Regions from separate parts of the Homo sapiens genome. Here region 1 is linked to region 2. Evidence: fine-mapped expression QTL. A gene starts in region 2. The other region holds a variant in brackets. All regions are shown on one strand. Distances are from middle to middle.

Region 1 (4,380 bases), 120 kb after region 2:
AGGACAGGATAACAGTTTTAGGACTGCTAGTTTCAGGATTGGTCAATTTCAGGCTCTGGGGCATAGGGGCTGTCCCTTTAGTCTGGTACCGCGCCCTGGGGTGATTAGGGTAGTGACCGGCAGCCTGAAGTGGGAAAGCATGATAAAGGAGATGGTGGGGGGGTGCGCGCTCTGGACTGGTTGGTTTGCATTTGAAAAGCACACTCTCAGGTGAGTTGTTCTCTATCCCTAAGAACTCTTGGAAGAGGTGGTCCCTCCAGTGGGGTCAGCAAGGCTCCAGATGTCAAAGCATCAGAATAAAGAAAATCAAAGACATGGCTAATACAGTGGCCAATAGAATATGAGAGAAGTGTTGATGTATCGCTTCCAAGACTAGGTTATATAGATACAGTGCCGATCAGTGTGCTCTCTCTCTTTCTCTGATCACTTGTTCCAGGGAAAGGCAGCTTCCATGTTGCCAGGAGCTGAGGCCTTTTGCCAACAGCTGTGTGAATGAGCTCTTTCTCATGTGGATCCTCTAACCCCAGTGATGAGGCTACGACCACATGTGTAAGTTATCTATTGCTGCGTACAAGTTAACTCAAAGTTTTCAAATGATTGCAATCTCTTAAGAGACCCTGGGCCAGACACGGTGGCTCATGCCTGTAATCCCAGCACTTTGGGAGGCCGAGGCAGGTGGATCACCTGAGGTCAGGAGTTCGAGACCAGCCTGGCCAATATTGTGAAACCCTGTCTCTACTAAAAATACAAAAAATTAGCTGGCATGGTGGCACACGCCTGTAATCCCAGCTACTCGGGAGGCTGAGGCGGGAGAACCACTTGAACCTGGGAGGCAGAGGTTGCAGTGAGCCAAGTTTGCACCATTGCACTCCAGCCTGAGAAACAAGAGCGAGACTCCGTCTCAAAGAAAGCAAAACAAAACAAAAATAAGACCCTGAGCTGAAACCTCCCAGCTAAACTACTCCCAGGTTCTTGACTTACAGAAACCAGAGATATAATAAATATTTGTTGGTTTAAGCTACTACACTTTGAGGTAACTTTTATGCAGCAATAGATAATACATGTGATACTAGCCTCATTTTATGGATGAAGGCAAAACTCAGAGGGTAAGATGACCAGGTCAAGGTCACGGAATAAACAAGTGACAGAAATGACTTGCCCTCAGAGAGGAGCCTTGCCCATGGTACATTCTCCACAAATATTTGTTGAATTGGCCCATCTTTTTTCTGCTATCATTAACTAAAAATTGAGGCACAATGGTGATTAGTTAAGATCAACATAGCCGGGCGCAGTGGCTCACGCCTGTAATTCCAAGCACTTTGGGAGCCCAAGGTGGGCGGGTCACAAGGTCAGGAGATCGAGACCATCCTGGCCAGCATGGTGGAACCCCATCTCTACTAAAAATACAAAAATTAGCTGGGCATGGTGGTGCGTGCCTCTAGTCCCAGCTACTCAGGAGGCTGAGGCAGGAGAATCGCTTGAACCAGGGAGTCGGAGGTTGCAGTAAGTCGAGATCACGCCACTGTATTCCAGCCTGGAGACAGAGCAAGACTGTCTCAAAAAAAAAAAAACAAAAACCCCCCCCCCCCAAAAAAACCAATGTGAATTAACATGGTAACAGCCTGTATGCCTGTTATTGGGCCAGGGACACTTGTTCTCCATTAGGTGCCTTGCTGACCCAGGGAAAGGCAAAGTCCTGTGTATGTGAACATCTGTCCTCTTTGTTGCCCCAAATCCAAATCTTCTTTCAGGGGAATCCCAGGACAGATAAGAAACAGGACCATTATCAGTCTGGGTCCAATCAGCAAAGAAAAAAAAACACACAATAATTTGAATAGGGAGGAATTTTTTTTTTTTTTTTTTTTTTT[G/TG]AGACAGTCTCGCTCTTTCACCCAGGCTGGAGTGCAGTGGCGCTATCTTGGCTCATTGCAACCTCTGCCTCCTGGGTTCAAGTGATTCTCCTGCCTCAACCTCTTGAGTAGCTGGGACTACAGATGCATGCCACCACGCCTGGCTAATTTTTGTATTTTTAATAGACACGGGGTTTCTTTCTTTCTTTCTTTTTTGAGAGGGAGTCTCGCTCTTTCGACCAGGCTGGAGTGCAGTGGCGTGATATCGGCTCATTGCAACCTCCTCCTCCCAGGTTCAAGCAATTCTCCCTGCCTCAGCCTCCCGAGTAGCTGGGATTACAGGCGCCCGCCACAACGCCTGGCTAATTTTTGTATTTTTTAGTAGAGATGGGGTTTCGCCATGTTGTACAGGCTGGTCTTAAACTCCTGACCTCAGGTGATCTGCCCGCTTCGGCCTCCCAAAGTGGTGGGATTACAGGCGTGAGCCACCACACCCAGCTAGTTTTAACTTTTTAGTACAAAACAATTTCTGATGACTAATGCAGTGAATGGATTTCAGTTCTGTATCTTTTTGAAACATTTTGAACTTGGATTTAAGTTTTGCAACAAGTCCAGTGTTATCACAGACCATTGCAGGGGCACCATCTGTGGTCACACTTACTAATTTTGACCAGTCAACATTAAACTTTTTGAAACTTTTTTTTCTTTTTCTTTTTTCAAGACAGAGTCTTGCTCTGTCACCCAGTGCAGTGGCGTGATCTCGGCTCACTGCAAGCTCCGCCTCCTGGGTTCATGCCATTCTCCTGCCTCAGCCTCCTGAGTAGCTGAGACTATAGGCGCCCGCCACCACGCCTGGCTAATTTTTTTGTATTTTTTTTTAGTAGAGATGGGGTTTCACCGTGTTAGCCAGGATGGTCTTGATCTCCTGACCTTGAGATCCGCCTGCCTCGGCCTCCCAAAATGCTGGGATTACCGGCATGAGCCACTGTGCCCAGCCGACTTTTTTCAACATACAAAAATAAGTCACTTTCAGTGGTTGGATCTGCCATAGGTACCATGTCTAAAAGTTCTTCAATGATATCAAAATTCTCAGCAACACCATGGATAAACATAATTAACTGACTTGTATTATTTACATATGTGCACTCATCAACTGCAATAGAAAATGTCACAAATGATCTCACTTTTTCTCACAACTTATCCTGTAAATTCTCAGCCATATCTTTTACTCTCTGAGCAACAGTTTTTCTGGTTAGGCTTATGTCTGCAAATGCTTCTTTCTGTTCAGGACACATGATTTCCGCTGCACTCAATAGACAGTCTTTTATAAACTCACCATCTGTAAAAGATTTTGAAGCACGGACAATTTTTTCACTTATTATGTAACTGCATTTCACAGCAGCATCACTTATTTTATTTGTATTCGATGATTAATGCTGTAGAAAGTTTAGTCCTTTTCTAAGTTCATTGAGTTTTTCATCATGCATCTTTTCTGTAAACTAGTCAAAATTCTCACCATGGTTTGTTTCATAATGACATCTTCAGTTGTATTCTTTTGACACAGACAAAGTTTGGTTACATATTAAACACATAGGACTATACTTCCACAAAGAAATATGCTTGCTCCCACTTCTCTTGAAACACGCGGCGCTATCAATCCATCTTTCATTTTCCCACTTTTGATAGAGACATAGGAACAAAAAGAGAATTCACTTTTCTTTAAGAGAAACAACAGCGCAAGCCTGATGATAAATGGTGGCTGGCCCTGGAAGAGGGAGGTGTGGAGATGGTGGCAAACTGTAGAGCCTTCCAAAGGGACAGCCACCACTCAGCTAGGGCAGATTGCTGGTATGTGGGAACACAGGCCCAATGTCACCTGATCTCCCCCATTTTTTTTTTTTTTTTTTTGAGACGGAGTCTCTCTCTGTTGCCCAGGCTGCAGTTCAGTGGTGCGATCTCGGCTCATTGCAAGCTCTGCCTCCTGGGTTCACGCCATTCTCCTGCCTCAGCCTCCGGAGTAGCTGGGACTATAGGCGCCCGCCACCACGCCCGGCTAATTTTTTTTTTTTTTTTTTTTTTTTTGTATTTTTAGTAGAGACAGGGTTTCACCATGTTAGCCAGGATGGTCTCGATCTCCTGACCTCGTGATCCACCCACCTCGGCCTCCCAAAGTGCTGAGATTACAGGCGTGAGCCACCGCGTCCGGCCGATCTTCCCAATTTTTGAAGCAAAGCCAGACACTGAATTTTAACACAAAATCAGCTGACTTTTAGACATTGTGAACTAAAGAAAAAAGAAAAAAAAAAGTAACACACCGTGCAGGGCAAACCAAGTAAGTCTAAGTGTCGTGAATTGCCCCTGGACACCAGTTTGGGGCCCCTGTAGCCCCACTCACCTCCTAGCCTGCGGCCAACCACTTCCAGGGTTGTCAGGGCTTCCACCCCACACTGACCCAGGGTGGCTTCATTCTGTAAGGGAGAACCTGCCAGAAGCACAACCTTATCTTCAGGGATGAGGCCCTCCAGGGATGCTA
Region 2 (4,380 bases):
TCCCAGAAAGGGGAAGCGGACAGGGGGTGCCTAGGGAGGGCAGGGCTTGGCTGGGCAGCCTGACTCAGGCTGGGCACGCCCTCCTGGGAAGCTGCAACCTGGGCAGGGGCAGCTTCCCGGCCTGGGCTCCAGGCTAAGCAGCCCAGGAGGCCCTACCCACAGCCGCCTGTGACTCAGCTGCGTTGACACTGCCGGCACCCTCAGCCTGCTGTGCCCAGTGTTTCCCTGGCCTCCCGCAGGATGCTGGAGCAGGAGCCAGAGGCCAGAGTTCAAGTGCCAGCCCCCAAGCTCTCCCAGGCTCTGCTGAAAGATGTGAATGGCCCTCTAGCAGGCCCAGTGTGGGCAAGGCCAAGGATATGGCAGCTGCCCAAGGGACCCCAGCCTCCTGCTTACTCCCCTCCCCCTGGACCCCATGGTCCCTTCCTGCCCCAGCCCTTCCCCTGGGGAGCCTAAATTTAGCCCCGCCTGGCGGGTGAGGCCCCCACAGCTGTGCCCTAATCCAGCCAAGGGAAGCTGACACCAGCAAGCACGTATATTTAGGGTGTGACGCAGGGGCCTGGGCAGCTATGGGTGGCGGCATGTGAACGAGATGCCCCTGAACCTGTTGGTAGTCCAGGCTGGGGCCTGCACCCTCTGGTGAATCACCCCTCACCCTGCCACCTTGCCCTCCGCAACCCTCTCCTCCCGGACCCACAACCTCCTAGGTCCTCAGGCCCCTTTAAGCTGCTCCCCGCCTCCCTCCTCAATCCTCCCAGCACTCAGTTTCCCCTTTTAAGGACATTGTGGAGATGTTTCCAGCCTCCCAGCACTCTGGCTGAAGAGGCGGGAGTTGGAGGGGTTCTTCTGGCTCAACAAGATGGCAGGGGAGGAGGGGGCAACATCTCTGTTCTTAGCTGGACTAAGTAAGGTCAGGGAGGCTCCTGCCCCAGCCCTAGCCACCTGCAGACCTCAAAACTTGATCCCTTTTCCAATGCCACCCTGAACCACCTTTCTGGCACAAGACATGCGGCCTCCCTCCCCCAGCCCTGACCGCAGCTGAGGAAGGAGTGGACACAGGCAGAACCTCAGGCCTGAAAGTCCTGACCCCCGCGCAGGGAAGGCTGCCCACGCCCCCAACTCCAGGGGTCCCACAAATTGCAAGGGCACTTCTGAATCTCCGAGCCTGGGAACGGAACCAGGGCCCAAGCTGGGGTGGGGGCCCATTTGGTCATTGGGCTGGGGGGGCAGAGTCCTCTCAGGCTCAAAGGGCCGGATGAGGTCCCAGCAAGTTCGGGGGAGCCCCCCCGCCTCCCTCCCACTCACCATTTCTTGGTGCACTCCAACACTAGCTCGTGGTAACAGGCCACGAACTGGAACTTGGCCGCCCGCTTGCCCACGCGCTGCAGGCGCTTCCACACCGAGGTCATGGCCCCCGCCACCCCGCCGCCCACTTCTCAGGCCCGGGGCTCCCGCTGGCCCGCCACCGCTGGCCCGGCCCGGGTCCCCATGGCCTGTCCGCGCCGCCCGCCCCGTCCGTGCGGAGGTGTCCCAGGCTCCGACCCGGGACCGCGCTCTCCGCTGCCGCCGCTGGGGCCCGCAGGGTGGTCTGGCTGAGTCTGCGGGGTCGCCTGGGGCGCGTCGGGTGGCGAGCGCGGAGCTGGGAGCGCGCCGTTTCCTGGAGCCGCACCCCCGTCGGAAGGCGGGCGGGGCTCCGGCGCGGGGCGGGGGCCGGGGCAGGAGCGCGGGGGCGGGGCGACCCGGCTTCCGGGGCCTCGCGCCGCGACCCGGGAGCGGGAGCGGGGGCGGGGGAGGGGGGCGTGGAAGGGGTGTCGCCCGACCGCAGTGCCCGCTCGGTGCGCGCAGAGGCTGCGTGGAGAGAGGGCAACCAGCAACTTGGTGCCACCCTAGAGAGCGCTGCCCGGGCCGCCTTCCTTCCTGCCCGCAGCCCTGGGAGGTACGTACTACTGGCCCCCTTTCAACGGCTGGGAAAACTGAGACCCAGAAAGGGGAAGGGACTTGCTCAGAGTCATACTGTGAATGTGGACGAGGACCAGCTCTCAACTCCAAGGTGCAGCCACCCACGTCTTAACCAGAGCAGGAAGGCGTCAGTAACCTCGGTGGCCCAACCTCAGAACCTGACTCTGCTGTCAAGGGGGAAGATAATCCCAAACCCCGACAAGTAGCTGGAGAATCATAACTGACCTCCAACCAAGTGTGACTTTGGGCAAAGCGCTAACACTCTGAGCCTCAGTTTCAACGTCTATTAAATGGGGATAATTGTAGTTCCGCCTTTTAGGGAATCCCTGAGAGGATGAACCTCAGAAGGCATTTAGCAGAAAGCCTGGCTGATTTTGCCATGCCTCCTTATTAAATGGGATGCGCTATAATGGATGGGGAAAACGTGTCATTTTTGTGTATGTTTACTCTCCCTCCCCAGGAAAGCCTGCCTGGAGCGTTAGCAGCTGTGAACCCCTAGATTAGAGCCCTTATCGCCTACCCACCCGCCCTGCATGGTAATGAGCCTCTGCAGGTGTCAGCTGCCCTGGGGCAATAGGTCAGTTTGTTCCTTCCCGCTGCTCTGCAAGGTGTGTAAATGGACAGGAGCCCGGTGCGTGACTGCTACTTGGTTTAACGGGATGTCTGAGTGCCAGGACTGCCATCTGGGCTGCATCTCCAGGAGGCAAATGGCTGCAGCAGGGCGCGGGGATGTGCTGTTCGTCCGCACACCTCGGTGTGCGGCTTCACCTCTTTTCAGGAGGTTGTGAGGTGTCGTGTGCGCGTGTAGGGGGCTGAGTACCCACTGTCTCCGAACGTGCTGGCTTCTTCCGGTGGGCTTGACAACTGGGTTTGGTTCTCAGTCCCAGCGGTGTGGGTCCCCGGTTTCCTAAGAAACCTTCCACAGATAACTGTAAAGACCGCTAGTGCTGTGGGGAGAGCCGGCGGTCTTCACAGACTGAGCGGGGAATACGGGTCCCTGGAACCCCAATCAAACTTCACCGCCGCGGAGTCTCATGCTTGGCCTCCGGGAAGGCCCGAGGTGCCGCGACTTCACTCCCCTCGGCCTCTGCCACCCCTCCCTCCCACCCGCGGGGCGTGAGGTCCCAGGCCGTTCCCGGAGGCGCCTCCCCCGCCCCCGCCGGGGCCCCTTGCTCCGGCGACTCCGGCCACCCATTTCCTGCGCCGCCTCAACCCCGCCCCGCGCGGGGTGGAAAGTTTCCCTCCTCAAGGTGGGCGGCTCCTTCTCCTTCCTTCCCGGCAGGCAGGGAAAGCCCGAAGCGAACTGGGAGGAGGGAGCGGGGGACTCGGAGGTCGCGGGCGAGAGAGGGGAAGTGACTCGACCGCAGTCACCCGGCGGCTGAGCCAGGCTCGGCCAGCAGGCAGCGCCCCCAGCCCCGCCCCGGCGGGACGGCAGGGCCTTCACTCGGCGCGGGGCGGGGGGGGAGGGGGTCTCGGGCGCCACCTGCTGGCAGAGCGCGGGGCCGCACCTGCCACAAACACCGCGGTCTTCCCGCCCCAGAGCCAGCCAGGCAGAGCACAACGACGCTGAGTGTATTTATTTATCTACGCGCCCTGGAGACCGGCCCCTAAATTTAAATATCCAGCACGGGGCCTTGGCCCTCCTGGCCGTGGGTGGTTATTGGGACGGGTCCTGGAGCCCTTCCAGGGCAGAGGAACCCAGAGCCCGGAGGTGGGATGCCCCTGAGCCAGCAGCTGCCGATAGCAACAAAAGGTGAGGAGGAGATGGGAGCCAGGCACTCATCCCAATCCCAGAGACGCCAAGCGGAAGGGAAGATGCTTCGGGCCCCACCGCAAGGCTGAGGGTTGGCCAAGCTGGGGGTGCACACATGTGGAAGAACTGGAGGCCCAGTGCCATGAGCAGAGGCTGTACCCTAGATGCCCGCCCCAGTGCCAGCCAACCCAAGACAGGAGAAAGAGTTTGGCAGTTTCGCCTCTGAGGAATACATGCCTGGCCCTCCTGTGAGGTGAGGCGGTAGGGGGGAAGGCGCAGGCTCCGAAGTCTGAGGGCTTGCCGGAGGGGGAGTTTCTGAGCCTTTTGCATGGGTGCATGCCCCCTGCCCCCCAGCCCTTCAGAGGCTGATGTGGAAGGCATCCTGCAGCCACTGGTCACGGGCATTGTGCGTCTGGGGCACAGTAAGGGGTGGCGGGTCAGGAGGCAGGCTGGCATCGGGAGGCTCCTCGTCGTCAGACAGGCCCGCATCCGGTGGGTAGGAGCTGTCCGAATGGAGGGAGGATGACAGGTCCTGGCAGAAGCTCAGGTCTTGGCACAGGTGTTTGTAGTCCTGGATTGACTCGTACAGGCCCCACAGCTGGCACAACAAGGACATGTCCAACTGCCGCAGCCCCACCTGCAGACAACTGAGGGTGGGCTGGAGTTGGGGT

What was found. PIP is the estimated chance that this variant, and not a neighbour inherited with it, causes the effect.
Region 1: its variant is the best candidate, but not a certain one, in a credible set for the expression of EHBP1L1 in whole blood (INTERVAL, PIP 0.79).

Annotation. Positions count from the first base shown.
Region 1 is chr11:65,455,444-65,459,823 of GRCh38, reverse strand. It overlaps the pseudogene FAUP4. Among named protein-coding and RNA genes, the nearest start is that of MIR612, 13 kb to the right of the region's middle. RefSeq lists a silencer at 1-27 and an enhancer at 1-526. The variant G/TG (reference allele first, on the strand shown) is at 1,869.
Region 2 is chr11:65,573,329-65,577,708 of GRCh38, reverse strand. It overlaps EHBP1L1 (EH domain binding protein 1 like 1), which reads right to left and starts at 1,656. Exons shown (of 19, transcript NM_001099409.3): 1 at 1,303-1,656. The coding sequence starts at 1,406. FAM89B (family with sequence similarity 89 member B) reads right to left here. Exons shown (of 2, transcript NM_001098785.2): 2 at 3,519-4,346. The coding sequence ends at 4,068. RefSeq lists silencers at 37-331, 1,382-1,481, 1,542-1,601, 1,612-2,031, 3,052-3,571 and an enhancer at 2,542-2,681.